Linked DNA regions of Homo sapiens: region 2 is linked to region 1. Evidence: fine-mapped expression QTL. A gene starts in region 1. The other region holds a variant in brackets. All regions are shown on one strand. Distances are between the middles of the regions. Region 1 holds the start of FANCA (FA complementation group A). Region 2 overlaps FANCA (FA complementation group A).

What was found. PIP is the estimated chance that this variant, and not a neighbour inherited with it, causes the effect.
Region 2: its variant is fine-mapped to the expression of FANCA in testis (GTEx, PIP 0.92).

Annotation. Positions count from the first base shown.
Region 1 is chr16:89,814,056-89,819,526 of GRCh38, forward strand. It overlaps FANCA (FA complementation group A), which reads right to left and starts at 2,592. Exons shown (of 43, transcript NM_000135.4): 1 at 2,482-2,592; 2 at 1,822-1,931; 3 at 465-558. The coding sequence starts at 2,560. RefSeq lists silencers at 2,096-2,145, 2,376-2,665 and enhancers at 2,526-2,820, 3,206-3,255.
Region 2 is chr16:89,759,233-89,764,232 of GRCh38, forward strand. FANCA (FA complementation group A) reads right to left here. Exons shown (of 43, transcript NM_000135.4): 29 at 2,717-2,790. Among named protein-coding and RNA genes, the nearest start is that of ZNF276, 40 kb to the left of the region's middle. The variant C/G (reference allele first, on the strand shown) is at 3,029.

The sequences.
Region 1 (5,471 bases):
TTTAACAGAAACAAGTCATCACATAAGGACGTGAAGGATCAGAAAATAACTTACTGTTGTTGACCCAGAACTTACCCTATCTCCCACTCTCAAACTGGGGGGAGAAGGAGGTACCTAGAAAATTGTTCTCCCGTCTGCTCTCCTGGGCACACCACAGCCTGTCTCACTACTTCCATGAGCAAGGGGCACATCCCTGCTGTTGCTATGTCCCATGTTTTTCCAAGGGACACTCTGGGTCCTACTGCTTCTGAGTCGCAGGTTGAATCAGACGCTGTTTTTAAACACAGCATCGTAAGAAGCCCAAGAGCAAGTCACACAAACATCCCATAGAATTTGCGACTACACACACCAGTGGAAACCCATCGCCTGAGAAAATTTACATTTCTACTTAATTTAGCAAACTATGGTTACTATATAAAAACCCTTCTGCAATTCAAAATAGAGAAAATGAAGCTATAACTTACCTATAAATGAACTAGAATGATTAGCATAGGCCTCAGAACTGTCACAGTCAATCACTTTGCTGAGAGACAATTTTTTACACAGTGGACCTTCTACCTAGAATCCAAAACACAACAAACTCCATTTAAAAAATTCAAGCTCCAGGCCAGGCGTAGTGGCTCACGCCTGTAATCCCAGTACTTTGGGAGGCCGAGATGGGCAGATCACGAGGTCAAGAGTTCGAGACCAGCCTGGCCAACATAGTGAAACCCTGTCTCTACTAAAAATACAAAAATTAGGAGGGCATGGTGGCGCGTGCCTGTAGTCCCAGCCACTCGGGAGGCTGAGACGGGAGAATCACTTAAACCCGGGAGGTGGAGGCTGCAGTGAGCCGAGATCACCCCACTGCATACCAGCCCAGGCTACAGTGTGAGACTTTGTCTCAAAAAAAATAAATGAAAATAAAAAATAAAAATAAAAAAAATTCAAGATCTGTGCATAAACACAACCTGTGTGTAAGTAATGCTTCCCTACTGGGCTATTTTCCTTTTTTTCTTTTTTGAGAGGGAGTCTCACTGTCGTCCAGGCTGGAGTGCAATGGCGGGATCTCACTCACGGCGACCTCCACCTCCCAGGTTCAAGCGATTCTCCTGCCTCAGCCTCCTGAGCAGCTGGGATTACAGACACCTGCTACCATACCCGGCTAATTTTTGTATTTTAAGTAGTGACGGGGTTTCACCATGTTGGTCAGGCTGGTCTCGAACTCCTAACCTCAAGTGATCTACCCACTTCGGCCTCCCAAAGGGCTAGGATTACAGGCGTGAGCCACCACGCCCGGCTTTTTTTTTTTTTTTTTTTTTTTTTTTTTTTGTGAGACAGTCTCACTCTGTAATCCAGACTGGATTGCAAGGGGCGTGATCTCGGCTCACTGCAATTTCTGCCTCCCGGGTCCAGGTTCAAGCAATTCTCCTGCCTCAGGCTCCCGAGTAGCTGGGATTAAAGGCGTGCGCCACCACACCCAGCTAATTTTTGTATTTTCAGTAGAGACCGGGTTTCACTATGTTGGCCAGGCTGGTCTCGAACTCCTGACCCTGAGTGATCCACCCGCCTTGGCCTCCCCAAAAGCTGGGATTACAGCCCTGAGCCACGGCGCCCGGCCTGTTTTTTTGTTGTTGTTGTTTTGTTTTTAATAAAAGAGGCGGGGTCTCACCCCGTTGCCCAGGTTGGTCCAGAACTCCCGGGCTCAGGCGACCCTCCCCTCTGCGGGCCAGGCCACCGCGCCCGCCGCCTCGGGTGTTTTCTTAGGAAAGCTGTGCGGTGGCTGGACTCAAAAACCCCGAACCTAAATCTGCCCGCAGACGGACACCAGCTTCCTCTTACCTCAAGCAAAAGGGCATTCAGGTCCTGATGGCTTCGCAGGAGGCGCACAGCTGATTCCTTTAATTTCTGTGCCCTTTCAGGATTATATTTTTCCCTCTTGACCCTTCCCGCTACGGAGAGAAGTCGGTTCGAAACCATCACAGCACAATTCACACACGGGGTCCCCGGCCCGACGCGCAGGTGGACGCCGCGGAGAAACCCACCAGCGACACCCTCCCGAAGAGGGGCCGGGGCTCCTCCCCAGGGCGCAGGTCTCGGGAAACTAACGGAGACGGCCCCACCGCGGACGCCGGGGAAGACGGCCCAGGAGGGCCCGAGGCAGGGGAGCCCGGGGACGGCTGGCGAGGGGCGGCCTCTGCGCTGAGGGGAGCCCCAGGCCGCGCACCCCAGGCCCGCCTGACAGGGCGGCCGGCGGGGGCGGCGTTCGGGAAAGAAGGGAGCGCCCCGCGGGCGGCGGCTGGGGGCGTCCGCCCAGGCGCAGGAGGGGCCGGGTCCGAGGCAGCCGCGCCGCCCCAGCCGGGCGCCCACCCCGCACAGCCCCCCGGGCGCGGCGTCCGGGGATCCGACCGGCGGAGGCTCTGGCGGGAAGGGATCGGGGAACCGGCGAAACCGTCCCGGGCCGGACGCCGCCCACTCCCGCGGCCTGCCGCGCCCACCTACCCAGCAGCTCGGCCCAGGCCCTCCGGCGGCCCCCTGGGTCCTGGCCCGAGGCGGAGTTCGGGACCCACGAGTCGGACATGGCCTTGGCGCCTACAGCCCCGGCGGCGGCTCCCTGCGCCCGAGCCCGCGCTGCCTTCCTATTGGCTGCGGCCAGGCGCGCACACCCGTTGGCTGGCGGCGGCCAGGCCACGCCCCTCAGGTCGAGGCCTTGCGTCGTGGCCATGTTGGTCCTGGGGGAGGCGCCTGCGCGCGGTGAGGTAGTTTTTGCGTTTGGCTTTGCCGCCGCGGTGTAGTCCGCGGGGGCGTCTCGCGCGGGCAGACTGCCGCCCCTCAAGCGTGGTTCCTGCCGGGAATGACTGGGGTTGGTCCTGAAGAGACCACCTGGCCAACCAAGCCGAGGCAGGCTCAGAGCGCCGCGGGGAGCGCAAAGCCGCGCGCGCCTCTGAGCTCCGGGCAGCCGCTGTTCCTCCCGGCGGCCGAACGGTCCGCGCGCAGGGCGGTGTTTCGGCAGCCGGAGACCGCGCGGTAGCCGCGCCTGTATTCCCAGCGCTTTGGGAGGCCGAGGCTGGAGGGTCGCTTGAGCCCAGGAATTCCAGACTAGCCTGGGCAACAGAGCGAGACCCCATCACTTTTGTTTCTTTTCTTTTTTTTTTTTTTCCTTTTTTTGAGACGGAGTCTCCCTCTGTCGCCCAGGCTGGAGTGCAGTGGCGCGATCTCGGCTCACTGCAACGTCTGCCTCCTGGGTTCAGGTGATTCTCCTGCCTCAGCCTCCCGAGTAGCTGGGATTGCAGGTGCGCGCCACCACGCCTGGATGATTTTTGTTATTTTTAGTAGAGACAGCGTTTCGCCATGTTGGCCCAGGCTAGTCTCGAACTCCGGACCTCAGGTGATCCGCCCGCCTCGGCCTCCCAAAGTGCTGGGATTACAGGCGTGAGCCACCGCACCCGGCTGAGACCCTATCTTTTAACCAGCCTGGGCGGCAGAGCGAGACTCTGTCTCAAAACAAAACCAAACATAAGAATTCGTAAAAGCGAGTGCCTAGGCGAAGCTAATGTGCCTCAAAGTCCTGGGTAAGTAGAGGCCCTGGAGACCCGTCCGCATCCTCTGGCAGTGGCCTTGGAACCACCGAAGGGATTCAGCCGAAGGGCCGCGTTCCCGGCAGGCGTCTTTATTGTGTTGATTACGTAGATGGCGTAGATGACGTAGATGACGTTCAGCACCACAAACGAAGAGCCGAGGCACAGAGTGGGGCCTTGGATTCATGAGATGGGGATGGAGCAGAAATGAGAATTCGGAGTCCATGAAACCCCCACAAAGACTCCTGCACGGCCCGACTCGGACACTTTGCAATCTGCTGGTTGAGGGGGATGGTGTGAACTCAGGGAACAGCCTGAGATCGCGCCGCTGCACTCCAGCCTGGGCAACAGAGCAAGACCCTGTTTCAAAAACAAAAAATAACACTAAGCAATTAACAGGACTAGACTCAGAGGTGATCGAGAAATTGAAACAGGCTGGAAATTTAAATTAACTGTGATTAATATGTGGAGGTCTCTTGTACGAAAGGTGAACAATATGCATGAGGAGGAAACTCATCAAATTATAAGAAAGGAAGAACGCTGATAACAGGTAATTTTTCTGATGGGGCAGCAGTAGGATCAACACAGCTGAGAAAAATAGGAATTACCCACGTTGGAAAATAAAGAAGAAAAAAAGTTTTTTTTTAAAAAAAGCATCCAAGAACTGTGGGAAAATATCAAATGATATCATATGCATGTAATAGGACTCCCAAAAGAAGAAGAAAGAACAAATCATAAAAAATGTTTGAAGAGAAAATTACCAATAATTTTCCCAAAATAATGAAAGACCTGAGCTCAGAGCACACACAAAACTTGATAAATATGAGCCCCTGCCTGACACATGCAGTGTATTCAAACTGTGGAAATCAGAGAGAAAACCATGAAGATGGCCGGAGGAAAAAGATACGTTAAATACAGTAACAAAGGTAAGAATTCCAGCCTGGGCAATATGGCAAGACCTCGTCTCTACAAAAAATACAAAATTTTTTTTTTGTATTTTTTGTATTGCCCAGTGTGGTGACACGAGCCTGTAGTCCTGTGGGCGGAGAATTACCCAGGTGCCGAGGCAAGAGACCGAAGGCACAAACTATTTCAGTATAATAAAATCGTTACAATAAGAACAGTCATAATACAAATTATGGAGATGATCATGGACAATTATCAATTATTATAAACATTAATCATTAGCTTTTAATATTACTGTTTGTTGCATTACTAATATAACCTAGGAATAACCGGTGGGTATAGGGTCAGGTGCTGAAAGGACATTGTGAGAAGTGAGTGGAAGGCAAGAGGTGAACCTTCTGTCATGCCCGCATAAGGGCCGCTTGAGGGCTCCTTGGTCAAGCGGTAACGCCAGTGTCTGGGAAGGCACCCGTTACTTAGCAGACCATGAAAGGGAGTCTCCTTTGCTTGGAGGAGTCAGGGAACACTCTGCTCCACCAGCTTCTTGTGGGAGGCTGGATGTTATCCAGGCCTGCACGCAGTCATCCGGAGGCCTAAACCCCTCCCTGTGGTGCTTCACTGGTCACGCTCCTTGTCCACTTTCATGTTCCTCCCTTACTTCTGGTTCGTCTTTGAAGTTCGTAGTAGATAGCGGTAGAAGAAATAGTGAAAGTCTTAAAGTCTTTGATCTTTCTTATAAGTGCAGAGAAGAAAATGCTGACGTATGCTGCCTTCTTTCTCTGCTTCACCTACCTGAAAGGGAAGGGCCCCCATCCTGTAATCACGTGACATGCTTCACCTTGTCAATCACTTAGAAGATTCACCTTCCTTACGCTGCCCCCTTGTCATGTATGCAATAGATATCAAAGAGCCTAGCCGTTCGGGGCCGCTACCAGTCTCCGCGTCTTGATGGTAGTGGTCCCCGGGGCCCAGCTGTTTTCTCTTTATTTCTTGGTCTTGTGTCTTTAT
Region 2 (5,000 bases), 55 kb before region 1:
TGGTATGAACCTGGGAGGTGGAGCTTGCAGTGAGCTGAGATCATGCCACTGCACTCCTGCTTGGGCAACAGAGCGAGACTCCGTCTAAAAAAAAAAAAAAAAAAAAAAAAAAAAAAAGTAGCCTGGAAAGTCACCTGAGGGCACCTGAGCTACTCACAGGCCCACCAGAAGGGGATGGTGAAGCAACCTGCATCCAGACTGTGGACTCTGTGGATACGGATGGGAAGGGGCTCAAGGAGACACTGACTCAAAACTGCAGTGGCTACACCTGTAATCCCAGCACTGTGGGAGGCCAAGGTGGGAGGATCACTTGAGCCCAGGAGTCTGACATCAGCCTGAGCAACAAAGGGAGACCCCATTCCTACAAAAAATAAAAAAATTAGCTGGGCATAGTAGTGCCCACCTGTGGTCCCAGCTACTCAGGAGGCTGAGGCAGGAGGATCACTCGAGCTCTGGAGAGGGAAGCTGCCGTGAGCCGTGAGTGCATCACTGTACTCCATCCTGGCCAACAGAGTGAGACCCTGTCTCAAACAAACAAACAAATCCGCAGTGCACAGAACCATCAATACCGCAATCCATTTATGCAGAAAGAGCCACAACCAGGAAAACGCTCCACACGACCCTGCAAATGTGAGTGCTAGGGAGTGTGTGCTCTCCTCACACTGTCCGGGACTGGGGTGCTCCACCCACGCTGTGCGGGACCTGGGTGCTCCACCCACGCTGTGCGGGACCGGGGTGCTCCACCCACGCTGTCCGGGACCGGGGTGCTCCACCCACGCTGTCCGGAACTGGGGTGCTCCACCCACACTGTCTGGAACTGGCACAGAATGTATCTAAGTATCACTTAAGTAATTCAGAAAAGAAAGAAAATCCCGCAACACATCTCAACACAACTTCCACGCAGCGGTGACCTGATGCAGCATGACCTCATGCAGCAGACAAGCCCCTCCCTCTGACCTCCTCCTTAGACTCCACCCCAGAGAGCAGCCGGGAGGAGAAACGGGGGTGAGTGAAGGAAGCGCCTGCAGAGCGGGCTTGGCACGACCTGAACCATCAGCACGTGTTTTGCCGCAGGCAGCAGCGAGTTTTCTTTTTGTGGCCCCTATGTTTTCCTTTTCCTATTACTTCCATTGGTTTCATCCAGAATCTGATACCAGGATCCAGGTGCAGGCGACAGTGCTGCATGTGCCTGGAAGGCCCCTGATGGCCGGAAGGACGAGGAGCACAGGGTGGCTGTTGCCAACCCTCTCCTGAGTCTAGGTGTGGCAGGCACCCTGAGGCCCATATACCCACCAGGATACTCCATATCTGCAGTGACCACATTCCCCTCTCCCTGACCTCCACCCTAAACTCCACACCCTTAAACCCAACGGTCCTCTGGGCTCCCTACTCCTATGCCCAGAACAGCACATCTGGCCTCTCAAATAGTCTCAAATGGTCTCAGTCATCAGCCCTGGGACTCATGGGGGTTCACTGCTTCATTTACCCACTTCTTGGTGCCCCCAAGTCAAGGCTGGCATCACTCCTCAAAGTCTGCACCACCTGCTCCACACCAGCCTCTGCTCCTGCCTGGTCATTTCCTCTCACACGGCCCTGTCTGTTATCTCCAGGGCTCATTCCTACCTTTAATCCACTTCTGTATCTACCTGTGTGTTGCCAGGGCCTGGACACAGGTGTACAGCTCCCGGACAGCAGCCATAGCCCAGCCAGGGTAGGGTGAAGTCTAAGTGGGTGCCTTATACGTGCCACATCTGCCCTCATTGATACAAAGGTGCCATATGGGCAGGCTTGTTTATTCCCCTCTATACTCCCTGCTTCTAGAACACTCTAGAATTGTCTGCCACATGGTAGGAGCTCAGTAAATGTTTCTTAAATAAAGGAATAACAACCGAAATTGGGCAACCTGGCCAGGCGCGGTGGCTCACGCCTGTAATGCCAGCACTTTGGGAGGCCAAGGCAAGTGGATCACGAGGTCAGGAGATTGAGACCACCCTGGTTAACACGGTGAAACCCCGTCTCTACCAAAAATACAAAAAATTAGCTGGGTATGGTGGCGGGCGCCTGTAGTCCCAGCTACTCGGGAGGCTGAGCCAGGAGAATGGCGTGAACCCGGGAGGTGGAGGTTGCAGTGAGCCGAGATCGCGCCACTGCATTCCAGCCTGGGTGACAGAGCAAGACTCTGTCTCAGAAAAAAAAAAAAAAAAAGAAAAACAGAAATTGCCACCGCGTGGAAGCTTTACTTTCGCTTTTGCTTTAATAAATCTTGCCACCGAAAAAAAAAAAATTGAAATTGTGCTCAAAGATTAACAGGTAAACCAAACATTAAATTGAGGATAAAATGACGAAACATAGGCTTTAAGGCAATGTGGAAAACCGTGTAACATTTTAAAGGGAAGCTCCTTTTTCTTTTGAGATAGGGTCTCACTCCGTTGCACAGGCTAAAGTGCAGTGGTGTGATCTCAGCTCGCTGCAGCCTCTACCTCCCAGGCTCAAGCAATGCTCCTGCTCAGCTTCCCAAGTGGCTGTGATGACTGGAACGTGCCGCATGTCCGGCTAATTTCTTTTCTATTTTTTGTAGAAATGGAGTTTCCCCATGTTGCCCAGGCTGACCTCAAACTCCTGGATTCAAGAGATCTCCTGCCTCAGCCTCCCAAAGTGCTGGGATTATAGGTGTGAGCCATCATGCCTGGCCAGGGTAGCTCTTTTCAACACTTACCGTTCAGTATCTGAAAGAGCATCAGCTTCAGGTTGAATTTCCAGCTCCAGGTGTAACCAGTCTTGGTAAGTTAACTGAGAAAGAGAGCAAGCAATTCAATACAATGAGGACAGAACACACAATCCACCGACAGGTTTATAAACCAGTTTGTCATTTCATCTCATACGCAGTCCTCCATGTCCCTGTGTTATAATGAAATTGCAGCTGAGAGTTCCACAGGAAAGAAACCTTAGTTTTATCAAGAATGATTTCTTACAGGATTTCCCTAGCACAAAGATGTTAGTACTGTAATCCTTCTTTCTAAGTATAAAA[C/G]GGCTATTTTAGTCTGGGCAACATAGTAAGACCTCATCTCATTTAAAAATTACCTGGGCACGGTGGCTCATGCCTGTAATCCCAGCACTTTGGGAGGCTGAGGCCAGCAGATTGCTTGAGCCTAGGAGTTTGACACCAGCCTAGGCAACATGGTGACACCCCGTCTCTACAAAAGATTTAAAAATCAGCCAGGTGTGGTGGCACATGTGTGTGGTCCCAGCCTCTTGGGAGGCTGAGGCAGGAGGATCTCTTGAGCCCAGGAGGTCAAGGCTGCAGTGAGTAACAGAGTGAGAACTATCTATAAAAAGGAAAAAAAAAAAAAAGAAAAAAGAAACTAACAAAACAACAACATTCTACAGCTATTCACAGTAGCATACCTTCATTTATTTTTGGAAACAGGTTCTGTTGCCCAGGCTGGAGTGTGTGCAGTGGTGCAATCGTAGCTCGCTGCAGACTCTGCCTCCTGAACTCCAGAATTCTCCCCCTCAGCCTCTCAGATGGCTGGGACTGCAGGTGCACATCACCATGACCAGCTAAGTTTTTTAAAAACATTTTTAGGAGGCCGAGCACGGTGGCTCATGCCTGTAATCCCAGCACTTTGGGAGGCCGAGGCAGGCAGATCACGAGGTCAGCAGATTGAGACCATCCTAGCTAACACGGTGAAACCCTGTTTCTACTAAAAATACGAAAAAAAAAAAAAAAAAGGGTTGGGCGTGGTGGCTCACACCTGTAATCCCAGCACTTTGGGAGGCCGAGGCGGGAGGATGATGAGGTCAGGAGATTGAGACCATCCTGGCTAACACAGTGAAACCCCATCTCTACTAAAAATACAAAAAGTTAGCTGGGCGCGGTGGCGTGCACCTGTGGTCCCAGCTACTTGGGAGGCCGAGTCAGGAGAATCCCTTGAACCCAGAAGGCTGAGGTTGCAGTGACCCAAGATTGTGCCACTGCACTCCAGCCTGGGCAACAGAGGAAGATTCCATCTCCAAAAAAAAAAATAATAATTTAAAAATAATAAAATAATTTCACAAAAGGCTTGGCACAGTGGCTCACACTTGCAATCTCAACATATTGGCAGGCCAAAGCAGAAGGATCACTTTTTCCTATTTTTAGTAGAGATGGGGCTTCATCGTGTTACCCAGGATGGTCTCAATCTCCTGACATCTCAGCCTCCCAAAGTGCTGGGATTATAGGCATGAGCCACTGTGCCCAGCCACCTTGAAATTCTTTTCTAAAGACCAAAACAACCAGGCAAACATCCTCAGAAATAAATCAGTACCAAGGCACACTGGTGAGAGCAATGCCAGCTCCAGTAACCAGGCACACATGGGTGAGCCCAGAGACCCTGAGTGACCACCACACAGCCTGGCAGACATGTTTAAAACAAGTTCCCAGGGGCCGAGCGCAGTGGCTCACACCTGTAATCCCAGCACTTTGGGAGGCCAAGGCGGGCAGATCACGAGGTCAGGAGGTCGAGACCAGCCTAACATGGTGAAACCCCATCTCTACTAAAAATACAAAACTTAGCCAGGCGTGGTGGTGCGCGCCTGTAGTCCCAGCTACTTGGGAGGCTGAGGCAGGAGAATCACTTGAACCAGAGAGGCAGAGGCTGCAGTGAGCCAAGATTGCGCCACTGTGCCCCAGAGTAAGACTCCACCAGAAAAAAAAAACAAAACAACAACAACAACAAAAAACAAGTTCTCGGGCGCAATGGCTCACGCCTGTAATTCCAGCATTTTGGGAGGCCAAGGCGTGTGGGTAATTTGAGGCCAGGAGTTTAAGACCAGCCTGGACAACATGGTGAAACCCCGTCTGTACTAAAGATACCAAAATTAGTCGGGCGTGGTGGCAGGCGCCTGTAGTCCCAGCTACTGGAGAGGCTGAGGCATGAGAATTGCTTGAACCCAGGAGGCAGAGGCTGCAGTGAGCCAAGACTGCACCACTGAGCACAGCGAGACGTTGTCTCAAAAAA